Regions from separate parts of the Homo sapiens genome. Here region 2 is linked to region 1. The links come from fine-mapping of genetic effects on gene expression. A gene starts in region 1. The other region holds a variant in brackets. All regions are shown on one strand. Distances are between the middles of the regions. Region 1 holds the start of LDLRAP1 (low density lipoprotein receptor adaptor protein 1). Region 2 overlaps LDLRAP1 (low density lipoprotein receptor adaptor protein 1).

Region 1 (15,210 bases):
TCCCCCAGCCTGGTGGGGAGATGGCCTCAGAGGCCAGAGTGACAACATCTCAGAAGAGGGCTCAAGCTCTGCCCTGACCTGGAGTGTAGCTGCTTCTCTGGGCTGTAATTCTATCTGACAAATGGGTTCATCCCCTCAGGAGCGTCACCAGAAGTTTCTGGACGTGAAAAGTACTAGGAAAATTTCAGAAGTCAAAGCTGTTGAGATTGTTATCAAAAGAAAATAATTTTTAAAATGACAAATTGCAGCAGCTACCATTTCCTAAGTACCTACTTACACAGTAAGAGAAAAATATGCTATGGGCTGTGGAGTTCATAGTCACTGAACCTCCCTGGATCTCAGTGTCCTAACTTTAAAACAGGGACAAGACAGGCACAGTGGCTCATGCCTGTAATTCCAGTGTGCTAGGAGGCTGAGAAGGAAGGATTGCTTGAGGCCAGGAGTTCAAGACCAGCCTGGACAACATGGTAAGACCTCGTCTCTACAAAAAATAATTAGCTGGGCGTGGCAGTGTGCACCTGTAGTTCTAGCTACCCAGGAGGATCCCTTGAGCCCAGGAGGTCGAGGCTGCAGTAAGCTATGATCATATCACTGCATTCCAGCCTGGGCAATAGAGTGAGACCTTGTCTCAAATAAATAAATAAATAACAGGGACAATAGGAGTATCCACCTCAGCCAGGCGTGGTAGCTCATGTCTGTAATCCCAGCACTCTGGGTGGCCAAAGCAGGTGGATCACTTGAGGTCAGGAGTTCAGAACAGCCTGGCCAACATGGTGAAACACTGTCTCTACTAAAAATACAAAAAAATTAGCTGTGTGTGGTGGCAGGCGCCTGTAATCCCAGCTACTTGGGAGGCTGAGGCAGGAGAATCACTTAAACCAAGGAGGTGGAGGTTGCACTGAGCCAAGATCCCACTGCTGCACTCCAGCCTGGGCAACAGAAGGAGACTCCCTCTTAAAAAAAAAAAAAAAAAAAAAAAAAAAAAAGAGTATCCATCCATGGGGTTGTCTTGAGGATGAACTGAGTTCACACCCGAGGTGAGCTTAGAAGCTTGTCTGGTACATACCAAGTATCACAAGTGTGAGCTACTGTCATTACAGTGGTCAAATGCAAAGAGATTTAACGTGTCCATGACCATTCTCATATTGAGAGAAGAGTCCAGGATAGATCAGTGTTCCCATTTCACAGATAAAGAAGCTCAGAGGAGTTTGACCATGGCTCATAATTGACAGCACTGGGACTTCAGTCCATACCTGCCTCCTGCAGCCCAAGCCCCTTGCTGGGGTCAGGCAGAGCCCTGCAGGGCTGCTCAAAAAGAGTATCTGACCCTCAGTGGGCAGTGGGTGACCTCTGACTCCTTCAAGCCACATGCCCCTCACACAGCCCCCAGACCCGGGAGAAGCAGAGTCCTAGCCTCCAGTTCAACATTCCCTGCACTTGCTGTTCCCTCTAGCTGGAACACTGTTCCCAGACTCCTCCCTCCTGGGATTCACCGGTGTGTACCGAGTCACCTTCTCAGAGGGACCTTCCCTGGTGCTGTCAGTGGCCGCCCTTATCCTCCCTGCACACCATTTCCATGTTGTGCTGACTGCCAGTACCTGCCACTCTGCCTGCTGGAGATGCTGAGGCTGGCGCAGACTGGGGAATGAAGATCTCCCGACCCCAGGAGTCCTCTCCACCGGGCTTCCGGGAACTGCCCCTCCAGTGGAACGGCTCTGAAGAGCACGTTCTACACTGCCTCCCACAGTTCCCACAGCGGGGTTAAGCTCCAGGAGTCCCTGGTGGTAATTTGCTTTATTTATTTATTTATTTATTTATTTATTTATTTATTTATTATTTGAGACAAAGTCTCACTGTGTCCCCCAGGCTGGAGTGCAGTGGCGTGATCCCGGCTCACTGCAACCTCTGCCTCCCAAGTTCAAGCGATTCTCCTGCCTCAGCCTCCCAAGTAGCTGGGATTACAGGCCTGCACCACCCCACCCAGCTAATTTTTATATTTTAAGTAGAGATGGGGTTTCATCATGTTGGCCAGGCTGGTCTCGAACTCTTGACCTCAGGTGATCTGCCCACCTTGGTCTCCCAAAGTGCTGGGATTACAGGCATGAGCCACCGCGCCCTGCTGGTAATTTGCTTTATAATGCCCACTTTGTGGACTCCCCTCCCTTCTCACTTGTCCTAACAATATTTCCTGCCATCTTGTCCCAAATAAATGACTTGCACTCCAATCCTTGTCTCTAGAGGAACCCAAATGAAGACACCATCCTATCTTACAAAGCTGTCCCATCATTTCCTCACCCTGCTTTATTTTTATTTGTCCTGCTACCAATGTCCACAACCACACCACTGATCTACACCCTTGTTGTGGTGCACCAGACTGTAAGCCACAGATGTCCAATCTTTTGGCTTCCCTGGGCCACACTGGAAGAATTGTCTTGGGCCACACATAAAATATACTAATACTAATGATAGCTGATGAGCTTAAAAAAAAATCACAAAAAAACCCATAAGAAAGTTTATGAATTTGTGTTGGGCCACATTCATTTGCAATATCCTTTATTATAAATATTATAAATATGATTATATCCTCCCTCCCTTGCCTTCCACCATGAACTAGCTTTACTGGAACCTGCACCTCCTATTTCTTCACCCCTTCTCTCTGGGTAAGCACAACCCACAAAATAACCGGAGGGCCTGAATGATCCCAGTACCTCTGGAAAGAGTGCTGAGGGGCCAAGGTGAGCCCCTCTTCCAGGCAGCTGGAAGGAAAATGCCTGGCCAGGGACTGAGATAAAATATTGATGTCTCCCCAGGGGATAGGAAAAGCCATGTGTGGGAGAGGAAGAGAGCCCTCTTTCAAGGTCAGGACAACCAGGAATCCACTGCAGGCATGAAGCTGGGTGGAAAGAAGCCTGGGGTGCTGGCTTTGCTGTGTGACCTCAGGCAAGGTGCTGCCCTTCTCTGGGCTTCTTTCTCCACAAATAAGCAATGCTCATGCTAATCCTAGTGAGGACCTTGAGGAGGAGGAGCAGGTCACAACTGAGAGCAGGGTTCGAGTCTAACTTTAACTCCACTGGCTTCAGTTTGGCCTCAAAACTCAACCACAGGGACCAGGTCCAAGGCCAGGCTGGGTCACAACCCTGAGCAAGGTGACCCTAGCACCCCCACCCCCACATACCCCATGGCCCCTGCTCTAACCTGTGGCCACTGCTGTCAGAGGCTGCCAGCCCAGCGTGGGGTAGGTGGGGCCTGCTCCCAGCTCCTCCCATGGCAGAGTTCACCAAGCACACTGGTAAGACCCCTGCGCTAGGAATGTGGAGCTCTGCCTCTTAGATGCTCTGTGTCTGGAGCCAATGACTCCAATGCTCAGAGTCTCAGTTCCTTTGTCTCTAAAATGGGTCTGCTCTGTCACCTCACAGGAGTCAATGAGAGAATGGAAGCAAAAACAGGTTGTAAAACAGTTACAAAAGCAGCAGTTACCATTTACCAAACTCCTCCTCTATGCCAGGCAAACGCAATTCCACTTGATCCCCACAAACAGCTGGAGGCAGGTACTACTGTTATTTGCAATTTACAGGTGAGGAAATTGAGACTTCATCACGAGGGACAGGTGGGGCTCGGCCTGCCCTCCTTCAGATCCAGAGGCTCCAGGACAGCACTTTGGGCTTACCAGGGCCTGGAGGAGGGGGAGAGGTGCTCCTCTCCTTTCCTCCAAAGGTGCAGACAGGCTCGGGGCCCCCAAAACCCATCTCACCACAGTACTAATCATGCTGGCAGCGTCCCAAGGATAGGCAGGGGGAAGAGGAGCAGGGGAGAAGAAAGCCACCAGTTAGGAGGGAGCATTATTACCAATAATCTCCTTGATACTCCTGCCAGGTAAGAGTTTTTATCCCCATGTTGCAGATGAGGAAACCGAGGATCAGAAAGGACAAGTGACTTGCTCAAGATTGAAGATGGCAAGAGAAATTCTCTTCCACATCCAAAGCGGCTACCTCTTCCACGTCCCCAGATTCAGAGATATTTCTTTCTAGCCTCCCTTCCCTTGCCAGCCCCCCTTCCTTCAAAACCACTTCCCTGGGGGCTGCCCCACCACCCTCCCTCCCTCATTCCTGGAGAAAACCCGCAGGATTCTCCCACTGGAACAGATGGCCATCTCAGAAGTCCTGGTCAAATCTTGCCAGTTTTTAAAGGGTCTATTTTGGGATGCAATCAGTGTGATAAACGGTACATCCCCTGGCCTAGTGGCCCAGCCCTAATGGGTCTCTGACCCCACCCCCCACCAGCAGGCACCACCCCACATTCCCAATGCCAATGCCAGTCTCAGCTGGGAGGCGGCCACAGCTGAACAACAGAGTGGGGCCAGAGGAGGAGGGAGGCGGGCCCTCTAGGCCCAGACACGCTGGCACTCCTTGGACCAGGGAGCTCGGGCTCCCCTGGCAGAGCCCTGTAAGGCCAAGAGGGGATGGGATGAGGGGGTGCTGTACTGTCAGTTGTTTCCTGATGAGGGGAGAAGCTGTGGCCCGAAGTAGGTGGCAGGGAGGTGGGAGTGTGCAGCAGTCCTGGGCTCTGGCTCCAAAACCAGCAGGAAGGTGTGTGTGACCCCAGGCAAGCCACTCTCTTCTCCCTCCCAAACAACGAGACCTGCGCTAGGCTGGGTCTTCTGGCTTCAGGGGAAGGTGCCAGGTGACAAGTTCCCTGAGCGTAATCAGAGACTGGGGGAGAGAAAGGGGGGGAGGCCCCTCCCAGCCTCCCAGACGCCCCAGGGAGAGGTGGCGGCGAGTCTGTCGTTTGCCTGGGCACCCAAGGGACTCTGGAAGCCCGAGGGGAAAGGTGCGAGAGAAAACAGGTTTCAAAAATAGTCGGGACGCCAGGCTTGCCACCTGGACCCGGCTAGAGGAAGGGACGTAAGGGTCTAGATCGCCTGATGTGGGGCTCTCCCGAGGCACCCCAGGCGGGGCCTCGTTCCCAATTTCAAGTACGTACCTGCGACCCCGGGCTCACACCTGGATGGGTGTCTGGGCACCCGGAGTCAAAAGTTGGCCCGGTGGGTCGGGCAGGGGGCGGGAGAACGGGCCAGTGGGCTCCTGACCGCCGCAGCTGCTGGCTGGGGCGCAGGGGTGCGGGACGGGGGCGTCTTCCCAAGCCCCTGCGCCCTCTCCTCCTCCCCTAGGCACCGACGACGAGCGCCTGCCTCCCCCTAGCTGGCCAGGACAGCAGGGCGGGAGGTGCCGCGGGTGGCGGGGGCCTCTTCTCCCAACCTGCACCCCACCCCATGCCGGCTGCACCTGAGGACCCCGAGCTCGGGCTCCTTCCTCAGCGCTGCCCCTCCTCGCAGCGGCATCGAGCGGCCGGCGAGTAGGTGCACAACTTGACCCCGGCCGACCCCCTGCCCCGCAGGGCCGGGAAAGGGCCACGCCGGGACCGGAGCGCCGGTGAGGCCCCGCCTCTGCCCAACTTGGCCGCACTCCGGGCGCCCGCGGAGGCCCCGCGCGCCTCTGCCCGATCCCGGCCCGGCCCGGCTGACGCGCGCACACTCACTGCGGTGCCGGCCACCGCCCCCCCAGCTCTGCTTGGCCAAGCTGGGGCTCCGGATCAGCGCCCGCCCCGCCGACTTGAGCGCGTCCATGGCCCGCTCCGGCCGCCGCCGCCGCTGCCGCAGCCAAAACTCCGTCAGGAAAAACTTTCCGCCCGGCCCTGCGGCGCGCGGGCTGCGCGCTCCTCCCCTCCCAGCGCCAGCTCCGCCGCGGCGTCCGACGGGGCGGGGCGAGAGAGGACAGGCCCCGCCCCCAGACGGGCCGCGCCCCCGACGGCCGGTCTCGCCCCGCCCGGTCCCTGTCCAGGCTCCAGGTCCAGGCACCAAGAGTTTCCGAGGCCGCCCGAAGGCGCCAGAAGATAGCAAATCGCAAGCCCTAGACGCCCCCGCTTTCCTCCTTTTCCCCAATCCCCACCCCGTAGGGGCCTGAGGGCCTGAGAGCAGCGGCCTAGGATTTCCAGTGACCATTTTACAGATGGGGAGACTGAGGGCTCCTCCAGTGGTGAAAGATCTTGTTCAGGGACAAAAGCAATGCGATGTCCAGGGCAGTGGGAGACTTAGGAAATAGTGGAGGCTGTAAGCCAGGGATATCCAAACTTTTGGCTTCCTTAGGCCACATTGGAAGAAGAAGTGTCTTGGGCCACACATGAAATACACTAACACTAACGACAGCTGATGAGCTGAAATATATATATATACACACACACTCATGTTTTTTGTTTTTCTGTATTGTTTTTTTTCCCCTGAGACAGAGTTTCACTCTGTTGCCCAGGTTGGAGTGCAGTGGTGCGATCTCGGGTCACTGCAACCTCTACCTCCCGGGTTCAAGCTATTCTCATGCCTCAGCCTCCCGAGTAGCTGGGATTACAGGCATGCACCACCATGCCTGGCTAATTTTTGTATTATTAATAGAGATGGAGTTTTACCATGTTGGCCAGGCTGGTCTCGAACTCCTGACCTCAAGTGATCTGCCCGCCTCAGCCTCCCAAAGTGCTGGGATGGCTGTGAGCCACCACACCCTGCCCAAAAAAATCTCATAATGTTTTAAGAACCTTTACCAATTTGTGTTGGGCTCCATTCAAAGCCGTCCTGGACCTCACATGGCCAGTGGGCCACAGGTTGGACAAGCTTGCAGTATAGACCCTTGTTAGGCGCAGGGTCGGTATATAAAAATTTGCCTTTAGCAAGTCCAGCCAGGCACTTTACTCATCCTCGTAGCTCCCAGGCTGCTCCCTGGCACCACCTGAGCATGCTGGGCCACCCCATGCCCCCGCAACTTCCCAGGTAGCCTCACAGATGGTATGATCTGGAACGTGCCCCTGACACTGACTTGCTGTGTGACCTCAGGCAAGTACTTCCCCTCTCTGAGTCTTGTTTATCTGTGAATGAGAGTCAATGCTATCTCTAGTGATCCTTCCAACCTGCCAGGGTCAAGAATCTGCATGACCTTGACCCTGACCCCAAGCTGCTTCCTAGGAGCATTCGGAGGGCAGTCTGAACCCCAGAATTGCTCAGGCACAGATGTTCTAACTCCAGGATTGGAAGGATTTGTTCTAACTCTCTAGGATGCCATGCCTTCCTTTCAAACTGTGCCAAAAGGAGCCAGAGGGAGGACACACACATCCAAGCCACAGCCTGGCTTCTTTTAGAAGGGGGTGCCTCAGGCAAGGCCAACTTCAACCTCTGTAATTACTCCTGGCTCAGAAGCCAGCAGTCCTCTCTGTGTCGGGAGAAAGATAGTGCTGTGCTGTCCCCAGCTGGATAGGGCGGCCTCACTGACATTCCCCTGTTTATAAACCAAGTGCTTTGTTAGCCAGTCTGTCCTTGGCTTCCCCAGCAACACTGCTTAGGTGGACCCACTTTACAGATGACAGCCCTAGGTCAGGGAGGGAAGCATTCACTGATAGTCTCCGAGAGTCAGAGACTGGGATCAGACTCAGGCCCATAGGCAATGGGGTAGAGTATAATGCCAGGGGTTAGAACCCAGCTGTCCTTCTGGTGGTTGTGAACTCACCCTTCTGAGCCTCATCTGTAAAAGGGACAACTATATCTATTTCACAGGGCTGTCCTTAAGGACTAAATAACAGGAGTTGGAATGGCTGAATCCTGTTCTTGAGAACCCACCTTTAAAGTTGCCTCCTCCAGGAAGGCTTCCCTGACTACCACCCATGGATTAAGTTTCTCTTTGTGGGCGCCCACAGTCCTGAACTTTCAGGATTGCAAGCACTACTGCTGCCTGTTTATACTCCTCTCATCTCCATTAGACTTTGTACCCTCCAAAAGCAGGAAGTTTTTCTGATTCATTTCTGAATCCCAAATGCCTAGTAAGGGGTCCAAATGGAGTTGGAACACAGTCAGTGTTCCTGTCCTTCCTCCCTCCTTTCCTCCCCTTCTCCCTTTCTCCAGCTTTTCACCAAACCAGGCTGCCTTCTGCAAAAGGGCTGTGGCAATAGGTAGATGGGTCCACAGGGCTGAGTGCCCCCAGCTCACTTATCCCAAGCCAGCTAGATTCTGGAATAGTAGAGAGAGCATTCTGAAGCAGGGAGGAAAAGTGATCACCCAGGGCAGACTGGCCAAGGGCAGCTGGTGGTGTCCGGCTGGCAGGGGGCACCATATGGGCCTGATAAGCAGGAAGGCCTGGGAACGCTGCGTGTGCAACGAGAACTGTTTACCAGCCTTTGCAGTTTCCCGGAGATGGCTTGCTGCGAGCTGTCAGCCATGTGTCCCCTGCAGAGGGGCAGCCTGCTAGTGCCCCTTCTGCCAATCCCAGAAACAGAAGCAGAAACAGAAGGTCAGAGCTGCGAGTGGCCTCCTCTGAGGTCACTGTGGCCAAACCCTCATTTCACAGATGAGGAGCCTAAGGCCCAGAGAGGGACAGGGACTTACGCAAGGTTACACAGCAAGCCAGGAACAGATGCCAGGTCTCCTGCCTCCCACCTTGGATGCTTATAACAACGAGGAGGAGGCAAAGAAGTAGGGCCGCGTGCAGTGGCTCGTGCCTGTAATCCCAGCACTTTGGGAGACTGAGGCGGATCACCTGAGGTCGGGAATTTGAGACCAGCCTGACCAACGTGGAGAAACCCCGTCTCCACTAAAAATACAAAATTAGCCGGGCGTGGTGGCGCATGCCTGTGATCCCAGCTACTCGGGAGGCTGAGGCAGGAGAATCGCTTGAACCCAGGAGGCAGAGGTTGCAGTGAGCCGAGATCACGCCACTGCACTCCAGCCTGGGCGACAAGAGCGAATCTCCGTCTCAAAAAAAGAAAAGAAAAGAAAAGAAAAAAATAAGTCCTGAGATTCAAGAGGGGCTTGAAAGGGGATTTTTCTTTTCTCTTTTGTTTGGTTTTCTGTTTATCTGCTCTAACTTTGTAAACATTTCTGCAGTGATCATGTTCCTTTAGTAATCAGAAAAAGAACAATAAACGGGGTCGGGGAGCTACCTATAAGAATAAATGGCTTTTGTCTTTAGTCAAATGGCATCAGCTACAATCTTACTAATTTCTTCCTCAGTGGACCCACAGGACCCCAGCGAGATAGTGGATGCCAAGGAGTTGACAGGGCTGTCAGCCTCTCTCCAGCCATCATTTGGGCTTGCAGTGGGACCAAGACAAAAGCCTAAGCTGGGATGAGAGTCCCTGGTTTCCTCAGGTGGTCTGTCCTCCCTACTTCCCTGAGCCAATCCCTTCCTCTGTTTCTTCATCTGTAAAATGGGAGTTATTAGTGGAAGACACCAGAGCGCAGTAGTGAAGCACACTGATGCTGCATCCCGGGATCCAGGCTTCCCTATTTCTTTACTGCATGGCCTTAGGCAAATTATTTAAATTCCACAGGCCTCAGTTTCCTCTAAAATGTAAAATTGGTGCAATGGACTGAATGTTTCTGTCCTATCAAAATTCGTATGTCAAAATCCTAACCTTCAAGGTATCAGCAGATGGGGCCATTGGGAGGTAATCCTTTCATGAAAGCAGAGCCCTCATGAATGGGATGAGCATAAAGAAGACCCCAGAGAGATTCCTGGCCCTGTTCACTCTTACAGTGACAAGACAGCCATCTATGAACCAGGAAGCCGGCCCTCGCCAGACCGAATATGCCAACACCTTGAACTTGAACTTCCCAGCATCTGCAACTGTGAGAAATACATTTTTGTTGTTTATAAGGCAGCCGGCCTTTGGTATTTTTATTAGAGCAGCCTGAATAGACTAGAATAATGGGGATTACACCTCATGGAGTCATCATGAGGATTAAAAGTTAATGTAGGCTGGGTGCCGAGGCTCACGCCTGTAATCCCAACACTTTGGGAGGCCCAGGTGGGTGGATCACCTGAGGCCAGGAGTTTGAAACCAGCCTGGCCAACATAGTGAAACACCTTCTCTACTGAAATACAAAAATTAGCTGGGTGTGGTAGCAGGCGCCTGTAGTCCCACCTACAGGCTGGGACATTAACAAAAGTTAATGTTTGTGACATGTTTAGAATTCTGCCTGGCATATAGTAAGTGATGTATATGTTGCATATATATATATATATATATATACACTTTTTTTTTTTTGAGATGGAGTCTAGCTCCATCTTTTTTTTTTTTTTGAGTTGGAGTCTAGCTCTGTTGCCCAGGCTGGAGTGCAGTGGTGCCATCTCGGCTCACTGCAACCTCCGCCTCCCAGGTTCAAGTGATTCTCCTGCCTCAGCCTCCTGAGTAGCTAGGATTACAGGCACCCACCACCACGTCCAGCTAATTTTTGTATTTTCAGTAGAGACAGGGGTTTGACCATGTTGATCAGGCTGGTCTCGAACTCCTGACCTCGTGATCCGCCTGCCTCGGCCTTGCAAAAGTGCTGGGATTACAAGCATGAGCCACCATGCCCAGCCGCATATTTTAATAAAACTAAAATTGCTTTCCTAACTGGGTGAACAATGAAGATGACATGGCTGGAGTACCTATGAATATCATAATTCTTGGCTGGTCCCCAGGGAAGGGAGCTCTCTCTCCGGGTTGGAACCAGCATAGCCCAGTCTGAGGGGCAGGCAGGCTAACATCACACCTTCAATGGACAGGGTAGGGTTGCCCCATCCTAGCTGGGGCCCAGGTCGGAGACAGTACTCTCCTAGGGAGTCAGAGGGAGCCTGGGTTACTTACCGGTGAGTCACAAGCCCCAGGGCTCTGACCTTTTACCCCAAATGCAGGGCCTTTCCTGCCTGCTGTGCCCGCTGACCTGACCACCCCAACCAGTTGCCTCTGAACCCGTCCTCCCTCAGACCCTTCCCATGCAGCTGCTTCTTCCAGGAACATCCAGCCAGACTGCTTCAACTCTCCTGGCCTCTCTACCTTTGCCCTGAACAGCTACTTGGCCTCCTCCCTAACACCCATGATCACAGCCACCCACACACCAGTATTCTCTCCCCAACACACACACACTCCTAAACAACTGTTAGACCTTGGAGCTCCACATACCTTGGCTCTAAAACAAATCCTCCATGTATGTATATGTAACCTTAGCTATCTCTGAGCCTCAGTTTCCTCATCTGTATAGTGGGCATAATACCTACCTTAGAGGGCTTTGTAAGCCTTCTGTGGGATAATATATGGAAAATGCTTAGTCTAGTGCCAGGCGTGTGGCGAGCGCTCAGTAAATGGTAACAGGGTTGGGCACGGTGGCTCATGCCTGTAATCCCAGCACTTTGGGAGGCTGAGGTGGGTGGATCATCGCTTGAGCTCAGGAGTTCAAGACCAATCTGGGCAACAAAGCAAAACCTTGTCTCTATAAAACAAAATTTAAAAAATTAGCCGGGTATGGTGGCACACATCTGTGGTCCCAGCTTCTCAGGAGGCTGAGGTGGGAGGATCGCTTGAGCCCAGGAGGCAGAGGTTGCAGTGAGCTGAGACTGCGCCACTGAACTCCAGCCTGGGCGACAGAGACACTGTCTCAAAGAAATAAAAATGAAGATAAACTTTTTTTTTAAAGGGTAACTCTGGTTATCATTATCATGATTATGGTGAGCCTGTTTGCCTCTTCCAGCAGCTGGGCGTGCCTCAAGCATGGGGGCTGGAAATCAGCATTCATTCCAGGGGCTCCTAGAGCTGCTGACCAGTGCCTGGCACAAAGGAGATGCCCCATACACATCCAATGGCTTAATTTCTGTCTCTGGTTCTTATAGTGTCTGGCAAGTGGGTGAGGAAGGATGAGAAACAGCAGCCCCTAATGGGGCTGGGGAGGTGCTGCTGAGGGGAGCTCCTCGGTACCTACCCCTCCAAATAGCCCTCCGTGGTGGGACCAGCAGCTGTCTCCTCCCCCAGCCTAGCATCCACAGGGAGATCTCTAGGCTGTGGAGCCACTGAGCTAATTAAGAATGACAAAGCACCGTGTAATTGCCAGCAATTGATGAGTCCCCTGCCTCCTGCCCCCGCTTCCCTCGTCCTCCTTGGCACTGTCTGGCCTGGAGGTCACTGCATAGACATGGAGGCAGGCAGAGTGGTGTGACTGAGGACAGGCTGGTGTCAGGAGACCTGGGGGCTGGCCACCTCTGCCGCCCTCTTGCAGTGGCACTTTGGGCAAGGAAGTTCCCTTCTTAAGTTGGCTCTATTTCCCTTTTTCTGTCTACAGGGATCTTGACCTTGTGCTGAAAGGAGGTAGGAGGAGGGACAAAGTGAAGGGGCCAGGCCAAAGAGGACTCTGCTAAGGGGTCTGCTGCACCTTCCAGACTGGTTGAGTACAAGGCAGACAGCCTCAGGTTTGAGTCCCAAGCCCCACTCAGCAGCTGTGTGATCGTGGGCAGCCCACCTACCTACCGTCTCCATGCAGCAGGTTCCTCAGCTCTAAAATGGGACTCGCCTGAGAGCACTTAGCTCTTACTAGGACAACCTGCATGTGTTCTGAATCTGGGCCTATAAAGAGACCTCTGGACAAGCCCAATGCTATCAAAGAGAGTGTAGATATTAAGGGTTGAGAACTTTTAGAGCAATTTGATAGAGTAATTTTATGTCTGTTGAATCTCATTTTTAAAATTAGGCTTGTGTTTTTCGTCATTTTATTGTATTTTTCTAGTAATTCGTTTTCCTTGTATTTTACAAAAGCATTGGTCTGTGACAGAAGAGAAATTCTTTTAAAAATGGTCCTGCTCCACTGATGCTTCGAGAAGCATTACTTAGTGGACTTCATAAAACAGACATTGGTGGCAATCTTGCCATAATATCTATATAGTTCCAGGGTTTGATTTCCAGGAACCTTCAACTTCTCCAAAGCCTGTGAGATAAAGACCAAACCCCTTAGCCTGGCTTTCGAGGCCCTTCTCACTGAAGTCCCCACCCACCTTCCCATCCCTCGTCCTCCCCAGCCACATAGCCTTGTGATACTACCCTGTAACCCCTTCCCCTAAACTTCCTGTGTCCTCCTACTTCTCCATGCCTTTGCTGTTCCTTCTACCTGGAATGCCTTTCTCCAGTTTGCCCTCCAACTGGCAAACTCCTATTCATCCTTCAAAGCCCAGACTAAATGTCACCAATCCTGGGAAGCCTTTCCCAATGCCACTCCAGCACTCACCCCAGGTGGGGTTGCTCCCTTCTCCATACTTCACATGGAGCATGTGTGGGGACAGGACATCGCTATGGTTAAGGCTACAGGCTCAGCAGTCAGAACAATGTGGGCTTCAGACCTGACTTTGCCAGCTGCACAATCCTGGGCAGGTGACTTAATACTGCCGAGCCTCATTTTCCCGTCTGTGCAGTGGAGTCTAGAGGTGATACGTGAAAAGTTTCCAGCACCATGGCACACGGTAGAGACCTCAGATACGACAGCTGCTGTCAATGGTATCCCTTTGGTTCATAACTTTCCACATTGCTTTTCTGTCTCCCTACTAGGCTGGTTGCTACTTGAGAGGAGGCGTACTTGAGAGTGTCTGATTTGCCTAGATGTTTCCTGTGCCCAGCCCAGGGCTCGCACAGAGCCATGCGTTGAGTGTGGGTCTCTGGGTGCTCCCTGCCCCATGGTGCTGGCAGCTTGCTACCTTGTCGGTGGCGTGCTGATTAACCCAATTTCTGATTTGTACTGTTTGCCAATTTCCATGATGCAAATACACCCACCACGGCCAATTTCAAGTTACCAGAAGTTTAATAACCATCTTGCAAAACTGCTAAATATTGAACAACATGCTCATTTGAGCCACCTGGCTCCCGCACCCCTCCGGGTGTGGCTATGCCGAGCATAAGACGAACCAGAGCAGGCTTGGGTCCTGGTTGAGGGACCGGCTGCCTCCCATGCCCTCTGCCCAGCCAGCACATTGAGGGCCACCCAGGGAAGGGCCATAGGGTCAGTCATGCCCCACACAGAGGCCTTCGCTCATCTCGCTCCCCTAGGCCTCCAGCCCCGTTGTTTTCTGAGATAAAAGCTGTGAAATTGTTCATCTGTCTCCTCCCGCAGAAGGAAGAACAGAGGCTGGTTAAGGGGCCTGGCAGATCCATCCATCAGTGGTTCTTGGGGGCCTGGGCAAGAGGGTGCTAGCCATGCAGGCCACAGGGCCCAACTTGCAATAGCCCTGTCCCCACAGCTGTTGCAAGCGAATCAAGTTAAACCTGGTCACAATGGGGATCAAAGAAAGCTTGTGCACAACCTCCTCTAGCCTCCTTTCCTATGACCCCTTTATCTCCCAGGCTCAGAAGGGTCCCCACTTGGCATCTGCCATTACTGTCCTGCAATTCTTCATAACTTCTTTTTTTTTTTTTTTTTTTTTTTTGAGACAGAGTCTCACTCTGTCGCCCAGGCTGGAGTGCAGTGGCGCGATCTCAGCTCACTGCAACCTCCACCTCCTGGGTTCAAGCAATTCTCTTGCCTCAGCCTCTCCAGTAGTTGGGACTACAGGCACGCACCATCACACCCAGGTAATTTTTGTGTTTTTAGTAGAGACAGGGTCTCACCATGTTGGACAGGCTGGTCATGAACTCCTGGCCTCAGGTGATCTGCCTGCCTCGGCCTCCCAAAGTGTTGAGATTACAGGCGTGAGCCATCGCACCCAGCCAATTCTTCATAATTTCATCTTTGAATTTGTGTTTTGTACATGAAGTCTGATGGGACAGTGGAGCATGCCTAGAGTCTTTAGAGCCTCAGCTTAAGTGTGTGCCAGCTCCGCTGCTGCTCCCCTTCTGTTAGCACCTGTTCGCCTCCTATGCCTAGCTCCACTCTGCAGCTGTGCTGTCTCCTGTGCCAGGCAGGACCCTGGGCCCAGGCATGGGGGAGGGGGGATGGTTTGGAATCAGGTGCACACACCCTTCGTCATCTGGGGCAGGGCATGGCAGCAGCTCTCCCCACCCTGGGCTGGCAGCACCATGGCACATCTGGTGGGTAGCTGGCTAGAGGCCACATCTCAGCGGGGGAAAGACACTGATCCAGGGACTCAGCACATCCTGGCATGGAGGTTTAAAGACCCTTGGGGGTGGCCCATCTGCCAAGGGTTGGGGAAGTGGACCCGTGGGAAGGAGAGGCCCGGCTTGGCTTCAACACACCCTACTCACACCCGGCGTACCTTGCATCAGTCCAGTGTCTGTCTAGAGGGGAGCCTGGGAGAGTTGAGTGCTCACAGTAGGGTTCACGTGGACAATTTGACCACTGTCAGGCTCCAGAGAGTGGGCGTGTCCTCCACTGTGGGGTGGCGCCCCTGGGCACCTATGAGGGTCTTTATGAGTCTTCCTGTGCCC
Region 2 (15,210 bases), 34 kb before region 1:
ACTCTGTCCCCCAAGCTGGAGTGCAGTGGCACGATCTCGGCTCACTGTAAGCTCTGCCTCCCGGGTTCAAGTGATTCTCCTGCCTCAGCATCCCAAGTAGCTGGGACTACAGGCCTGCGTCACCACGCCTAGCTAATTTTAGTATTTTTAGTAGAGACGGGGTTTCACCATGTTGCCCAGGCTGGTCTCGAACTTCTAACCTCAGGTAATCCGCCCACCTCGGCCTCCCAAAGTGCTGGGATTACAGATGTGAGCCACCGTACCCGGCTCATTGTATACTTTAAATGAGTTGTATGATATGTGAATTATATCACAATAAAGCTGTTATTTTTAAAAGGATGGGGATTCAAGTCTAAGGTGATGAAAAAGTTCTGGAGATAGACAGTGGGGAAGGCTGTACAACAATGTCAGTGTATGTAATGCCATTGAACTGTATACTTTAAAAAGTCAAAATGGTAATTTTTTTTTTTTTTTTGAGATGGGGTCTCGCTCTGTCGCCAGGCTGGAGTGCAGTGGCACGATCTCGGATCACTGCAACCTCCACCTCCCAGGTTCAAGCGATTCTCCTGCCTCAGCCTCCTGAGTAGCTGGGACTACAGGTGCATGCCACCATGCCCAGCTAAGTTTTGTATTTTTAGTAGAGACGGGGTTTCACCGTGTTCGCCAGGATGGTCTCGATCTCCATATCTAGTGATCTGCCCGCCTTGGCCTCCCAAAGTGCTGGGATTACAGGCGTGAGCCACCACGCCCAGACCATTCTACCATAATTTTTTGAAATAAATTTTAAAATAGAGCGGGGGAAGTATCTTAGAACCAGATAATGCATCCCCAAATATTGGAGTCAGTGGGCCAAGGACGTACCAACTCAGTCAATGTCTGATGAAAGAATGAAGAGCTTCCCTTATTTGAGAGACAAGAAAACTGAGGCCCAAGGGGAAGCCATGGCACTGCCCAGGGCTGCACAACAGGGCCAAGGCAGAGATCAGGACCAGAACCCAGATAAGTTCCACCCCTGGGAAGCCCAGGCCTGCGCTGGGTGGGGCTGGATTTCACCAAGCCCCTCCCCCAGCTGTGCACATCTGTCCATCTCAGCGGGATGAGGCCGTTGCCCAGGAAGCTGGCCAAGGACTCAAACATCCAGGACAGAACAACAGAGGCGCTTCCAAGGGGCAGTATTGGCAGCCTCATGCTTGAACCTGAGCCCTACGGGGCTGCCCCCTCCTGCCTGGCTCTGGGGGCTGTATTCCTAAGGCCACACTTTGTCTCTTTACCCCAAATCCTCCTACCTCAGCAGGAGTACCGGGATGCGGTCCAGGTCAGCTACTGCCTGGGGGAGGCACTCAGCAGGTCCCTGCCCCTCCCGGGGTCTCCATTTCCCCTTCAGCATAGTCAGGTTTCATCCAGCTCTGCCGGTCCCACTCCTCAAATCTGCGCAGCCTTTGCTGACACTGCTGTCTTGGAACACTTAGCCCTTCAGGTGCCCTAGTTGGAGGGAAGAGACGCCCTGCCGTTAGAAGCCTCAGCCCAAGGTGGGAGACAGGGCCCTGCACACAGGAGCTCCCGATGTGTCAGAGGAGCGAGAGTTCTGCCCTTCAGAGCTTCCAGCCTGAAGAGGGAAACAGACCACCCCGGATTCAGCAACTCCTGGTCTGATGGGGGAGACCTGAACCATCACAGGAGTCTCCTGTGTCAGTGCTTGGGCCCTGTTTGGTATCTCTCTTTTTCAGAAACCCTCTCCTCTCCCTGGCTCAAGAGGCCAGGGGCCCATACCTACCTCTCTGCTTCTCAGAATTCAGCTGCCCTCCTAGTTTACTCAGCAGTGCCCCCGCCCCAGGCTGCTGGCTACAGCAAGCATCACGACAGAATGCCCATGTGCTGAGGCCCGGCAGAGAACACATGTTCCTCACACCCCATTTGCTTTTGGTGAGAAGCTCTCCAGCCCAGCACGGCACCCTCTTGGTCCAGGACCGGCCCCCAAGCAGGCCAATGGCAGTAACATCTAGAATTAGGAAGTACTCAGTCTAGACAGGCCCTTCCTGCTTTTGCTAAGGCCAACAGACTAAGGCTGGCCTCAATTTAGGGAAACTCCTCCAGAGCCTGGTTCTGAGCCTTCCGGGATTCATGGTGTCCTGCCGGGTTCTCACAGTACCCCAAAGCCTGGGGTTACTACTGATGAAGAAACTCAGAGCCTGGTCCCCATCTATAAAATGGGGTTGATAAAAGCAACACCTCTTGAAAGATAATTGTGGGCCAGGTGCAGTGGCTCACACCTGTAATCCAGCACTTTGGAAGGCCAAGGCAGGAGGACTGCTTGAGACCAAGAGTTCGAGACCAGCCCGGGCAATGTAGTGAGGCTCCATCTCTACAAAAAAAAATTAAAAAGTTAGCCAGGTATGGTGGCTCACACTTGTGGTCCCAGCTACTTGGGGGGCTGAGGAGGGAGGATCACCTGATCCCAGAAACGTCAAGGCTGCAATGAGCTGTGATTGTGCCACCGCACTTCAGCCTGGGCAATGTGAGACCCTGTCTCAAAAATAATAATAATTGTGAAGATTAAATTGAGATAATGAAGCCAAAATGTTAGCACAGTGTCTAGCCAAGGTGAATAATTTCTAGCTTTTGGTTTTGTTTTGTTTTTTTCTCACTCAGCATTCAAACCCCCTTTTTAATTTAATTTTTTTGTTTTAGAGACATTCTGTTACCCAGGCTGGAGTGCAGTGGTGCTCCTTAGCCTCCCAGAGTGCTGGGATTACAGGCAGGAGCCACTGTGCCCGGCCTCGAGCCTAGTGAACCTTACAGGAGACAGCTCTGTCTTCCCATGCAGAAGCTGATGTTCACCCTAGTCAGCTAGGAGCAGGCATGACACCGACTCCATCCACCAGGAGCCTACCCTGAATCTGCGGAGAACAGACAGAACAGACAGAAGCAGACATCTTCTGTAGGGACACCCTGCCTGTGTCCTGACTGCCAGCCTCCCTCGACAGCTGTTCTCTCTCTGAGCCCACTTCTCCAGCCGATTGCCTGAGCTCCTTGGTGTCTTTCCAATAAGTTCCTTTCTGCTTAAATTAGCGAGGGTCAGTTTCCATTGTTTTCAACTCAGAAACCTGGCGGGTTTGGAAATTGGTTGGAGGGGGTGGGTTTCGAGCTCCATACCCTTGGGGAAATGATGATCTGGTCTAGTCAGAGCTGAAGGAAGGGAAAATCCAGTTAGCGTTCAGGGATGAGAATCTAGCAGCTGTGGTAATGTAGTGGTGAAACAGCTAATTAAGTTATATTAATTAATTAAATTATGGCCTGTGGCCATCTGGGAAAAAAGTGCCATTGAAGGCAGAGCTTCGAGGGTCTGAGTCGACACTGCTATTGAACACATGAATGGCACGAAGATTTCAGAGATGGGGTAGCTGCTTCTGTGGCACTGGGCGATTCAAGGAAAAAAGAATAACAAGCTTAAATCCCTACATTCTTGGCTCAAGGCATGGACTGGAGCCTAGGAACTTTCTATAACTGTGCTGAAAACAATTCTCTTATCTTTGATGGCAGCAGGATTAAGTCTGTGAAAAACCAAATGTAAAATCTGACCCTTAGCATCACCACGTGACAGCGGCAGCTGAGCTCGCCGCCTCCTCTTCCTCTGCCTGCTGCCTAAATCCTATCAGTTCCTCTGGGTTGCTCCTGGGTTTTCTTCTCTTCTTGCCCTGCAGCCCTGCAGGGTGTGGGACGCATTTGGCCTCAAGTAACAGAAAGCTGCGCACGTGGAGGTGGATCCTGGTGCAGATCTGTGTGCAGGTGCTTTTCACTCCCAGCTCTGCTGTTCTCAGGGCTGGCCTCATCGAGTGGGGTGCTGGAGCTGGGTCTTTCTGCCTTGCAAGAACAGACTGTGTGCATCTTAACTCCAGGTTAAGTGATGTCATGTTGGTAGCCTGACATTGGCCATGGTGGCCATATTTATACTAGGAAATCGACAAGCGCTACAAGTCAAGGCTTTAAACAACACATGGAGAGGTGGCATACTGCATACTGTTAGCTTCATCCCAGATCTGGTCCTCTGAAGGGGTAGCATGGGTCACGTAAGACAAAGTAACAAATTTAAGAAGCCATGTTTCTCATTTCTGCATGCCAGCATAATTTCACAAGCCCCTGATTCTGTGACAACGTACAGCTCTCCAGAAAGATGCTTTAAAGACAAAACCCTCACGTCTCTCACCTGAGTCACTATATTCTTTAAAAGATAAATGGCCCCACACCAGGCACAGTGGCTCACACCTGTAATCCCAGCACTTTGGGAGGCCAAGGTGGATGGATTGATTGAGTCTCAGGAGTCTGAGACCAGCCTGGGCAACATGGTGAAACCTCATCTCTACAAAAAATATATAAATTAGCCAGGTGCAGTGGCATGTGTGCCTGTCGTCCCAGCTATTCAACAGGCTGAGGTGGAAGGGTCGCTTGGGCCGGGGAGGTTGAGGCTGCAGTGAGCCATGATCACACCACTGCACTGCACTCCAGCCTGGGCGACAGAGTGAGACCTTGTCTTAAGGAAAAAAAAAAAGACAAACGATCCTAGTCCTTGCCTTTTCCTACACATAAGGTAATGATGTCTAACGGGGTTAGTGATGATGCCTCTGTAATCTATCACCAGATGGACTCCTGCACCCAAATTTCAATGTGATTTTGCACTACCGAACCTCCACCAGCTGCATATCAGCAGTGGGCTCAAATGCCGTGCCGGAGTTGTCTGACAAACCCTCTCTGGAGGGCTGCTTGAGGGCCGTAGGCCTCTGTCTATAGTCATCAGCAAGACTTCTGTATAAAACTAATTTTAATGCTTTAAAAGCTTGATTTTTGTCTTTAGTCAACGGTCACCCGCTTCTTTGTGTGCTGAGGAGAGAGAGACAGAGAGAGAGAGAGAGGAAATAACTCTCCCAGTGTTCCCTGAAGAGCCAGAGCCCTGTTGGGGTGAGATCTCTGAACAAAACTGTCTTTTTCAGGGAATGAGGAAAGAGCAAATGGAGGTGGGGGGCTCACCCACACCTGCCGCTTCACTGATGACAGAGCTACGTCCCCAGCCCAGATGCCCCCTGAGCTCCCGACCTGTGTAACTGATGACCTGCTGGAGACCTCCACTGCGACAATCCTAACAACAGTCCCAATAGCTGGTGCACACGCACTGACGTGGGCCAGGCACTGTTCCAAGTGCTCTCTGCAGCTCCTCTCATCCACACAAGAGCCCCACTATCACCCCCATTTACAGATGGGGAAGATGAGGCTCCGAGGGTGGCATAACCTGCCCAGGTCACTTGCCAGAGCCAACTCACGGTGATGCCGGGACCTGAGCCTGCCACCCGGCGCCAGGCCTCTGCTATGCACCCTGTCTTGTCCCCGCCAGGTGCCTCAAATGCTCCGCCTTCCCTCACACCTGCTTGGAGCCCTTCCCCTCCTCGTCTAACTTCAACACAGTGAGGTCTCACCGCAGGCCTCCCTGCTGTAGAAAGCCTTCCTAACCGCACACCAGGCTCGACGCTCATCTCTGGCTGGCATGTGACTCTGCCTCCTGCACTGGGCGTGGTAACTGTCTGGCTCCTCGTCTGTTCCCTGCATGAACCTCGAGTTCCTTGAGGGCAGGAAACCAGCCCAGGACCTGCCCACAGGGCCACCTGGTAAGGAACAGGTCAGGGAAAGCCCAGCCCAGGTCCTGGTGGTCCTGGCACGTCCCCTCTGCCTAGCCATCCAGGCTCGCATCCTGGCAGCCCCTCCCCCACTCCACCTCCCAGCTGGGTCTGCTCCTCACACTCAGCAAGGCTCTCCTCAGCTCCGTTCATCAGCCTCCTTCCTGCTCTACTCTTTTATTAAGATTCTAATTAAATAATTCTAATTAAATGTAATGAGCTGATTCCACAAATTTATTGCAATAAAGCAGCGTTCAGGACATGCTTCCTCCCGATCTTTCTCAGGAGGTGAATGCGGGGATGGCACAGGGTCTCTGCTGCCTGGGGTGACTAAGTGGGGCTAGGACCGACTGCCACGCTCGCAGGAACATCGCCATGGAGAGCCGCCCCAGGCTCCCTGCACCGGGCAGAAGCTCCTCTGCTCTTAGAGACAGCAGGTACAGGCCTGAACCCCACCGCTGGCTCCTCCTTGGGTCTGTGTCTCAGGCCACTCCTAGTGCCTCTGCCTGATGGCACCACGCTGCCACCTCCACATCAGGAGGGGCAGCCTCCTTCTGTGTGACCTTAGCCAAGTCCCACCCCAAATCTGGGCCCCATCTCAGTTTCCACTGAAGGGCAGGCCGGATGGGGTGGGAGAGAGCCTCTGTGAAAGATAAAGTGGATGGTGTGTTGGGTTAGGATTGGCCTTGAATCTTGGCCCCGTTCCTTTCTGGCTGTGTGGCCTGTGGCAAGTTGCTTCATCTCTCTGAGCCTCAGTAGTAACAGCCACCACTGGCCGGGCACCCAAAGCCAGGCGCTCTGCTTTCCTTTCACCGTCTCATACTGCTACTTTTGTTTTTATTTTGTTTTATTTTGTTTTTTGTTTTTTTGAGATGGAGTTTCACTCTTGTTGACCAGGCTAGAGCGCAGTGGCACGGTCTCGGCTCACTGCAACCTCTGCCTTCTGGTTTCAAGTGATTCTCCTGCCCCAGCCTCCCCAGTAGCTGCGATTACAGGCATGTGCCACCACACCCGGCTTATTTTGTATTTTTAGTAGAAATGGGGTTTCTCCATGTTGGTTAGGCTGGTCTTGAACTCCCGACCTCAAGCGATCCACCTGCTTTCACCTCCCAAAGTGCTGGAATTACAGGCGTGAGCCACCACGTCTGGCCTACTTTTGTTTTTTTTGAGGAGTCTCACTCTGTTGCCCAGGCTGGAGTGCAGTGGCACGATCTTGGCTCACTGCAACCTCTGCCTCCCGAATTCAAGTGATCTTCCTGCTTCGGCCTCCCGAGTAGCTGGGATTACAGGCACATGCCACCATGCCCGGCTAATTTTTTTTTTTTTTTTAATAGAGATGGGGTTTCACCATGTTGGCCAGGCTGGTCTCAAACTCCTGACCTCAACTGATCCGCTCACCTTGGCCTCCCGAAGTGCTGGGATTACAGGCGTGAGCCACCACACCCAGCCTCATGCTGCTGCTTTTGAAGTCAGACTGCCTGGTTCAAATCCTGGCTCTACTAGTTCCCAGCTGAGTGACCATGGGCAAGTCATGCCATCTCTCTGGGCCTCAGTTTCCTCTTCTGCAAAATGGGGCCTGTACCCATTCCAGAGAGTTATTGTGAGAAGCCCATGGGGTCGTTTGTGTAAAGCTCTTAGCCCAGGGCTGGGCACATACTCAGTGCTCATTTAATCTCCACAGTAGGCCCAAGACGCCGGTCCCGCCTCTACAGATAAGGAAACGGAGCAGCCATTTGACTAAGGTTTTTGAACTAGGAAATGACAAAGTGAGATTTTTGTTTGTTTGTTTGTTTGTTTTTGTAAGACAGGGTCTCATTCTGTGGCCGAGGCTGGAGTACAGTGGTGCAATCACAGCTCACTACAGCCTTGACTTTCCAGGCTCAAGTGATCTTCCCACCTCAGTCTCCTGAGTAGCTGGGACTACAGATGCATGCCACCATGCACAGCTGGTTTTTTTTTTTTTTTTTTTTTTAGTAGAGACAGGGTTTCTCCAGGTTGCTCATGCTGGTCTCAAATTTCCGGACTCTAGTGATTCACCTGCCTCAGCCTTCCAAAGTGCTTGGATTACAGGCATGAGCCCCTATGCCTGGGCAAAAGTGGGATTTGAACCCAGGTCCTTCTGACTTCTACCTCCATGCTCTTTCCACAGTGCTGGAGTCCTGGCTTTCCCAGGAGGCCCCCAGGTTTAGAGATCTGACTCTTCCTTGGGGCTGGCAAGGCCCAAACATCATACAGTCTTCCCACCCGGGTAGTGAGAGCCCTGGTCCAGCCTTGCGGCCCGAAGAAAGGGTCTCTGAGTTTAAAGCACTGCATTTGGGGACCGGGACGGTGAGTCGTCCCTACCTCAGCTGTTAGAGACCGCTGGGGAGGAGACCCTGAACCCAAGTATCCAAGAAGCACAGGCCAGTCCTACTGGGTCCTGGGTGCTGTCTGTTTCCATTCGTTCCAAGAACTACAGCTGAGCTGTGGAATGTCAAGTGAGCATGAAACAGACAATGACAGGCCAAAGTCAAAGACACCCCTCACTGCTGCCCACTACGGACAAGCAGGAACCCACAGACGCACAAGGAAACACACAGGCCTCTCACCCTTGACTCATGTACAGACCTTCAGGTCTACACGCTCCTGGCACATACAGGCCCACGGAGCCAACACAGGCTCACTCATGCACACCCAGAGAAATGATATAGCATGCCCAGAACACTCGCTGCATCAGCCTCTTGCTCGGCTGGCAGGGACCAAGAGACACCAGCCCTCCACATCACACGGGGATACACCAATCTCTGACTCAGGCTACTGCCAGAGGCCCACAGACACCCACAGGGCTCCCGACACACAGATTTGGGACCACCACCAAACCCAGGCAGCTGGCCATGCACACATCCTTTTCTTCAACAAATCTGGAAGCCCCCCGCTCAGACAACAGAGCAGGAGGACATGGGGTTGCCTTTTCAACCTTCCATCTGCCCGCTTGCAAGCCCGGAGGTTGCTCTCTCTTGGGCTTGACCCTGGATGACAGCCTCAGTATCCTAGAGCCTCAGTCTCTGCATTGCCCCTGGCTGTGCAGCCTTCGTGTCCTCGAGACCCCACACTGAGCCCTGCACAGCAGGTCTGAGCCTTGCCACCGCCCTGTGGTCCAGGCCTGCACCTGCTCTGAGCCCATTTCCCAGTCCACCTCCTTCCTCCCTCCTCTCCAGCCTCAGACTTCCTCCTGCCCTTGGCACATTCCAAACTGCAATCCTGGGGCTTTGCGCTTGCTCTTTGCCCTCTCAGGTGCCCTTTCTCTGGGGCCTCCCTACCTCCTCCAGCACTCTGTCCAACTCTGACCACCCCAGGTGCAGCAGCGCTGCCGGCCAGGCCACTCCCCTTCCCCCCACCGCCCTTTTTCCTTTGGAGTGCTTACACCACACCTATTTTTACGTATTTACAAATATTTATACATATTTGGGGGAGCGTCAGCTCCATGAGGATGGGGATTTCTGCTGTTTTGTTTGCTGCCATGTTCCAGACGCCTGGCATGCATCCTGGCATGTGGTGGGCACTCAATCACTGGGCATTGGATGAATGAGCCTGGCTCAGGGAGAGGCAGGAGCAGGCCCCGCCTGTGTGAAATAGCCCCGGGGTGCTGTCCTAGCTTTTCACATCTCGATCAGGTCAGTTCATGGCCTCACATGGCTGTCCTAAGGATTACGTAACGTGTGCAAAGCCTCGGCATAGCTCCCGACATAGGTGTGGCAGCCAGGTTTTCTCCGGGCTAACCTCCCTCAGCTCCTTTTACCCTCCCTGCCCCCCAACAGTGTTGGGGTGGTGGGGTGCCAGGGGGTCTGCTGCATCTCAGCACCATTTCCCTTCCCTTCCCTGTGCCCTCCTGAGCCGCAAGGGCTGATGCCTGCAAACCACCTCTTCCCAACTTCCCTTGCCAGCAGCTTCCGGCCAGCTCTGCCCCGGGATGCAGCCACCGGGACCTACAGGAGCAGCAGCCGCCAGATCCCTGAGCCCCTGCAGGGACCACCTGCACCCTCGCCCTGCCAGGGCTTTTGTGATCTGGTGCTCTTCACTAAATCCCTTCCTACTGGAAACAGCTAGACTGCAACGCTTTCCTCACTAGACAGTAGAGTTTGTTGAGTTTTTCCTGAGGGCATAATGTGGTGGTCTCAACGTGGCGGGGCCTGAGTGTGCACCTGGGTGCATCAGGGGAGCTGGTAAGACACAACTTGTCTCCTCCCCACCTTGGCTACCCTGGGTGGGCCTTACCCCTGGGGAGAAACTGGTCTTCCCCACCCCCATCTGACCTCCCCCCGCCCCGCAAAGCAGCCCCTGTTTGGACTGCACCTTTATCCTATTTAACAGGTGAGGAGACTGAGATACAGGCTACTAAGTTGTTTCTGCGGCTAAAAATCGGCCGTCTGGGATTGAAAGCCAGTCCTGACGGCTGTGGCCCCAGAGGCTGCACTCGGAACTGCAGCTCCATGCCCCCTCTTCTAGGTGTCTGGCCAGCAGCCTGAGCTGCAGATGAGACTTCAGCGTCCTTGAGGGGGACAGTGGAGAGACGGATGATGAGCTGGTGCTCATTACATGCTCAAGAATCCACCAAGGTCCTTTCTCCAGCCTCTTCTTACCAACATCACATCCAGTTCCCTGCAAGCACATGGGCCCCTTCTAGCAAGAGTGGGAGGGACTTCTCTCTCCTTTACTCCAGGTTGATGGAGGACTGGGCATGGAGTCGGTGGAAAATACAGCTCAGATCCCAGCTCTCTTAACTGCCTGTGAGTCCCGGGCAAGTCCTGTGCCCTCTGCA[G/A]GTCTCAACTCCCCATTATAAGCTCAGTGGGTGGGCTGGGGAACCATCAGGGGCTCTCCCAGCATTAACATTCTAGAATCTCACTTTGAAGACAGCATGAAAACCAAGATCTTGGTTGGGGCAGAGGGTGGACCACACAACATTTTACCAAACCAGGCTGGGCATGCCATGCCATCGGCTGTGTGTGACGGAGACCCAGAGTGCCTAAGCCCAGTGCACCCAGTGCACACTGGGGAGCTGTCACAGGAAGGGTCTGACAGCCGGCAAAGTGGACTCCCAGGCTGCAGGGACTCCAGCGCTGCCTGCTGAGCCAGGGCTGCCCTTTCTCACAGCTCTCATGGGAGCCAGGCTGTTCTCCCCTCCTGATGAACTGACTCACTGATGGCCACTCTGTGCCAGGTGCTAGGCTGGGCACTGAGGCCATGGGGCAAATCAGACAGGCATGTCCTCAGGGAGCTCCCAGGCTAGCACATGCAGTCGCCAACCATTCTACCCTTCCTTTGATGCCCAGCAGGAATATGCCCCTCTTCTAAGAGCCTGACCTGGCTTCCCCAGCTGCCATACCTCAGCTCTGACTTCCAATGTCCCGCTGGCCTACTGCAAGCCCAGCTCATGCCCGGGGACTTTCCAGGGCACCATGAACTATAACCCCTGGACTGCGAGGGGGTCAAGAGCAGCTGTGCCTCAGTCACCCTGAGACAGGCCGTGCTGGGGCTCAGCAGGTGCAGTCAGAATTGCTGTCTGGCAACAAGGATTCATGACACAGCCCACATCTGTCCTGGCCACAAACGCACCATCTGATCCAGTACCTCTGTGCTGGACACTTGGCTAAGGTTACTCTGGGCTGGGTTCAGAAGTTCCTAAGCAAGCAAGGTCATCCTGATTTGCCAATGTCCCAAGTGACCTGCAGAGGCAGGGCCACCCAGCACAGTGGGGAACACACTGGCTCTGAGTCCCAGGCCTGCCTCCTAATAGCTGTGTGAGGCTGGCTGATCATGTAACCGCCACAGGCCTTGGTATCATCATCTCTAAAATGGGCTAACAATACGTGCAAGCACAGGGGCCGTGCAGCAGCTTAAACTAGCTGGTACGTGTGGATGCTGCTGGTGTTCAAGATGTGCACCCTCCTTCCTGCCCTTCCGAGGCTGGCATTCACCTCCCAGAGGAAGGCTTCCTTCTCTGAGGGGCACCAATGCTCACTGTGGGCCCCACTGGCAGGCTGAGCAGTGCCACTGGGGACAAAGCAGGGTCTCAATGCAATGAGACATACCCCTGTGGAGTTCTAAACTAGGCATGTCCAGAGAAGTGGCCCCAAAGGGCAGCCACTGGGGAAGAGGTGGGATCTGCTCTGGTGTCTAGCTAGGAAGTCAGCCTCTGCCTGTGGAGACACCCACTGGCCAGCAGCTTCCAGTGTCTTCCGTGGTAGCTGGGGCTGCTGGCGAGGCAGAGCAGGGCACACCAGGTCGGTTGGGGTTTGCCTTGATCTGCACGGAGAGGCACTGTGCAGTGGAAATCCGGAGCGCTGGGGTCAGAGAGCAGGGTTCAAATCCCAGATCCCCGAGTGGATGTGAGACTTTGGTCAACTTGTTGATCCTCCTTCACCCTCAGCTGCCTCATCAGGAAAATGGGACTAGGACCACCTACCTGGTAGCATGTGAGGTTGCAAGGACTAGTATCACCAGTGTTAGGTGCAAAAGACCTAACAGGCCCAAGGGTTACTTTATTTTTATTTTTATTTTGAGAAGGAGTCTCATTCTGTCGCCCAGGCTGGAGTGTAGTGGCCCGATCTCGGCTCACTGCAAGCTCCACCTCCTGGGTTCATGCCATTCTCCTGCCTCAGCCTCCCAAGTAGCTGGGACTACAGGCGCCCGCCACCACGCCTGGCTAATTTTTTGTATTTTTAGTAGAGACGGGGTTTCACCGTGTTAGCCAGGATGGTCTCGATCTCCTGACCTCGTGATCCGCCTGCCTCGGCCTCCCAAAGTGCTGGGATTACAGGTGTGAGCCACTGCGCCCGGCCGGGTTACTTCTTAATATACAAACGGGCACCTCCTCTGATGAGCACCTGGGAATGGCCGGAGGAAGACCAGGCCCCAAGCCAGCCCCCCAGATGTGAATCTGCCCCTATTCCCTAGCCAGGCTTGTTGAAAAGTCCCCAGATGTACATGGGATGGGATCTCTTCCTGGGAGAGCAGACCCCAACATCCACCCAGTGAAGCTGAAAGTCACGTCAAATCTGAAAGGCGACTTTGTTCTCCCTGGCTTCATCCCTTATGCATGAAAGAGCAGACGGCTGGCGCTCAGGATTCATAATCCGAGACATCCGGAGACTAAAGACATTGGCCAAATTTAAACCGAAAGATAAACTTGTTGGGTGTCTTTTCAGATTATGAGGGAAAGAAGAAAGGGGAGGATTTCTTAGTCATCCATGAACCACTGAGAATTCACAGGGAGTCAGCCTGATGCTGATATGAGGGCTCTGCCTCTGGGTTCTGGACGCTTAAAATACCAGTTTCAAAGGGATAAAGAGATACATGTCCAAGTGGACCCCCACAAGCCACAGCTGAGGGGCAGAGGCCTGGGGAATCTCCGGAGAGTGGCTGAAAGAACCTGAAGAGAGTGGCCTTTCTGTGAGGGTCACCGCACAGGTCAACAGGTGGTCTCGGGCAGCATATGGCCAGACTGGGCTCCTGGGAAGCCAGGACATGGCGGGGTAAGGGCCACACAGGTTGGCGGCTCAGCTGTGGCCCCGCCCAGCACTTGAAGCACAGCTGCCTTCCTCTCCCAGCCCAGTGTCCTCAGCAGTAACGGGAGCTAATGCCATCTGCCATCTGCGCTCAGCACAACCGTTGCAATATGGTGCAGAGCTCAGCACAACACCCGGCACATAGTAAGAGCTCAGTTAACACTGGTTGCTAACTATTTTACTTTACCATTTTTAGACATATTGAGTTCCAGTTGCCTTTGGTTCTGAGATAACCTGAATGCACAAGTGTTCTACCAACAATGTGATGATGGTCACCACTGAGTCACACAAAACCCAGGGTGGTAAAAAGCGGGGAGGTCATTGCACCATTTTCACAGACGGGAAAATCAAGGCTCAAGAGGTGACTGATCAAGTGTCACAGCCTCCAAGTGGCAGAGCTAGGGCTAGACCCTGAGTCTCTCAAGACACTGAAATACTTCCCACCATCCCCCAACACACCCAAACCACACATCCTGAGTTCATCTGGGCCACGCCTGGACCCCTGTCCCCAGTACTGAGACCCAGGCCCAGTCCACGTTCAGCCCGGAGCAAGTCTGTGGAATGATAAAGTGTTGCGGATCCAAAAAGTGATGGAAATAATGGACATCCTCTCTGTGGAAAACGCCCACGTGGACACGTACACAACCTCATGCACACTGCAGGGGACTCACAGCCTGGCCACAGTCCCCCGCCGGGGCTCTCAGACGCTTCAGCCGATGCACCAGATCCCTGGTGTAGCCTCCATGAGTCATCCAGAGGTGACCTCATCACACACACACCCAGCTGCTGGGTGAAAAGGGGGCCCCACTGGGCCTTCAACCCCAGGAACCTAAGACCATCACCCCCACTCAGTGCTGCCCCTGGGCACGCGGCCCCACCCAGCCTGTGGTCACTGCTGCTGCCATCCCCAAAGGGCAGGAGCCGCCGGACGCTGCCGCCAGTCTACTCCACCTGATGAGCGTTGCTTGAGTTTCAAAACGAGAACATTTATTATTTGTTTTTTCCTCATTAAAGTTTCACAAATAAAGCACAGCAAGACTTGTCTGCAGACACACAGGAGGCACACGGACAGCCCGTCAACCAGAGATGGAGACGAAGGCCAGCGTGGCTCTCACAGGGCAGCGCTTCTCAGAACCCCTGGCCCCCCTCGTGCCAAGGCTGGCCTGTGTCAGGCCTCGCCCACGCCGCCTTATGACAAATAGAGGCCGGTGCCAAGGAGGTGGCTACAGAGCAGGGGCAAGGAAGTTATCCTCATGTTCTGATAATGACCCTGCAAATCCCACCCCACCCTCAGGCACCTCCGTCTAAGGTGTCCGGTTACTCCAGGTAAGGAGGTTCCCAGGAGGGCCGTGTTTTCCCTAGGGCTGATGAAACTTGCTCCGACAAGCCAGGCCACTGGGAGGCACCTCAGGATGGAAAAGATGCTGGAGGCTTTGCTGGCTTTCAGGATGCCGGGAGCCCCACGGGGGCAAAAGGGGAGGAAGGAAAGCGATTCTAAAGACAGATTGCTGCTGGTCTGTCCCGACCCAGGGTCACAGTGTCAGCAAAGAGAACAGCATGATTCTGACAGGGTTGGATTTTGTTTCACCCTCGGAATGAGCAGACTTCAAACACTTGCATTTTCACGGAAATCAACAAGAGAGACAGCTAGCAGGACACGAGGCTCCTGCCAGTTCTGTGTGGAAAGGCACCAGATGGTTTGTTATGAAACACATTTTGGTCAGAAAATAGCTGGGGTTTTTTGGTTCCTGGGAGGACAACAAAGCTAGAAGAAAAGGAGGTGTGAGTTGCGTGAGGAGGAGGCAGAGAAGAAAGCAGCTTTGGCATCAGACCTGGGTTCTACTCTTCACTCTACCCCTCCACGCTTGAGGCCTGTTTCCTCATCTGTAAAGTGGTCATAGAATATTTCCAAATAAATCTAGGTGTCAGGTTTCACACATCATCCCAGGAAGTATGGGGAGGCGGGGCGCAGACACTCAAACGGACACACAGAAACCAGAGGA

Evidence for each region.
Region 2: its variant is fine-mapped to the expression of LDLRAP1 in whole blood (TOPMed, PIP above 0.99).

What each region holds. Positions count from the first base shown.
Region 1 is chr1:25,534,112-25,549,321 of GRCh38, reverse strand. It overlaps LDLRAP1 (low density lipoprotein receptor adaptor protein 1), which reads right to left and starts at 5,716. Exons shown (of 9, transcript NM_015627.3): 1 at 5,536-5,716. The coding sequence starts at 5,623. RefSeq lists silencers at 5,217-5,396, 5,427-5,886 and an enhancer at 5,987-6,046.
Region 2 is chr1:25,567,849-25,583,058 of GRCh38, reverse strand. LDLRAP1 (low density lipoprotein receptor adaptor protein 1) reads right to left here. Exons shown (of 9, transcript NM_015627.3): 9 at 14,173-15,210. Among named protein-coding and RNA genes, the nearest start is that of LDLRAP1, 32 kb to the right of the region's middle. RefSeq lists enhancers at 661-1,509, 4,678-5,599, 5,600-6,521, 8,215-9,082, 14,096-14,819 and 1 more. The variant G/A (reference allele first, on the strand shown) is at 10,462.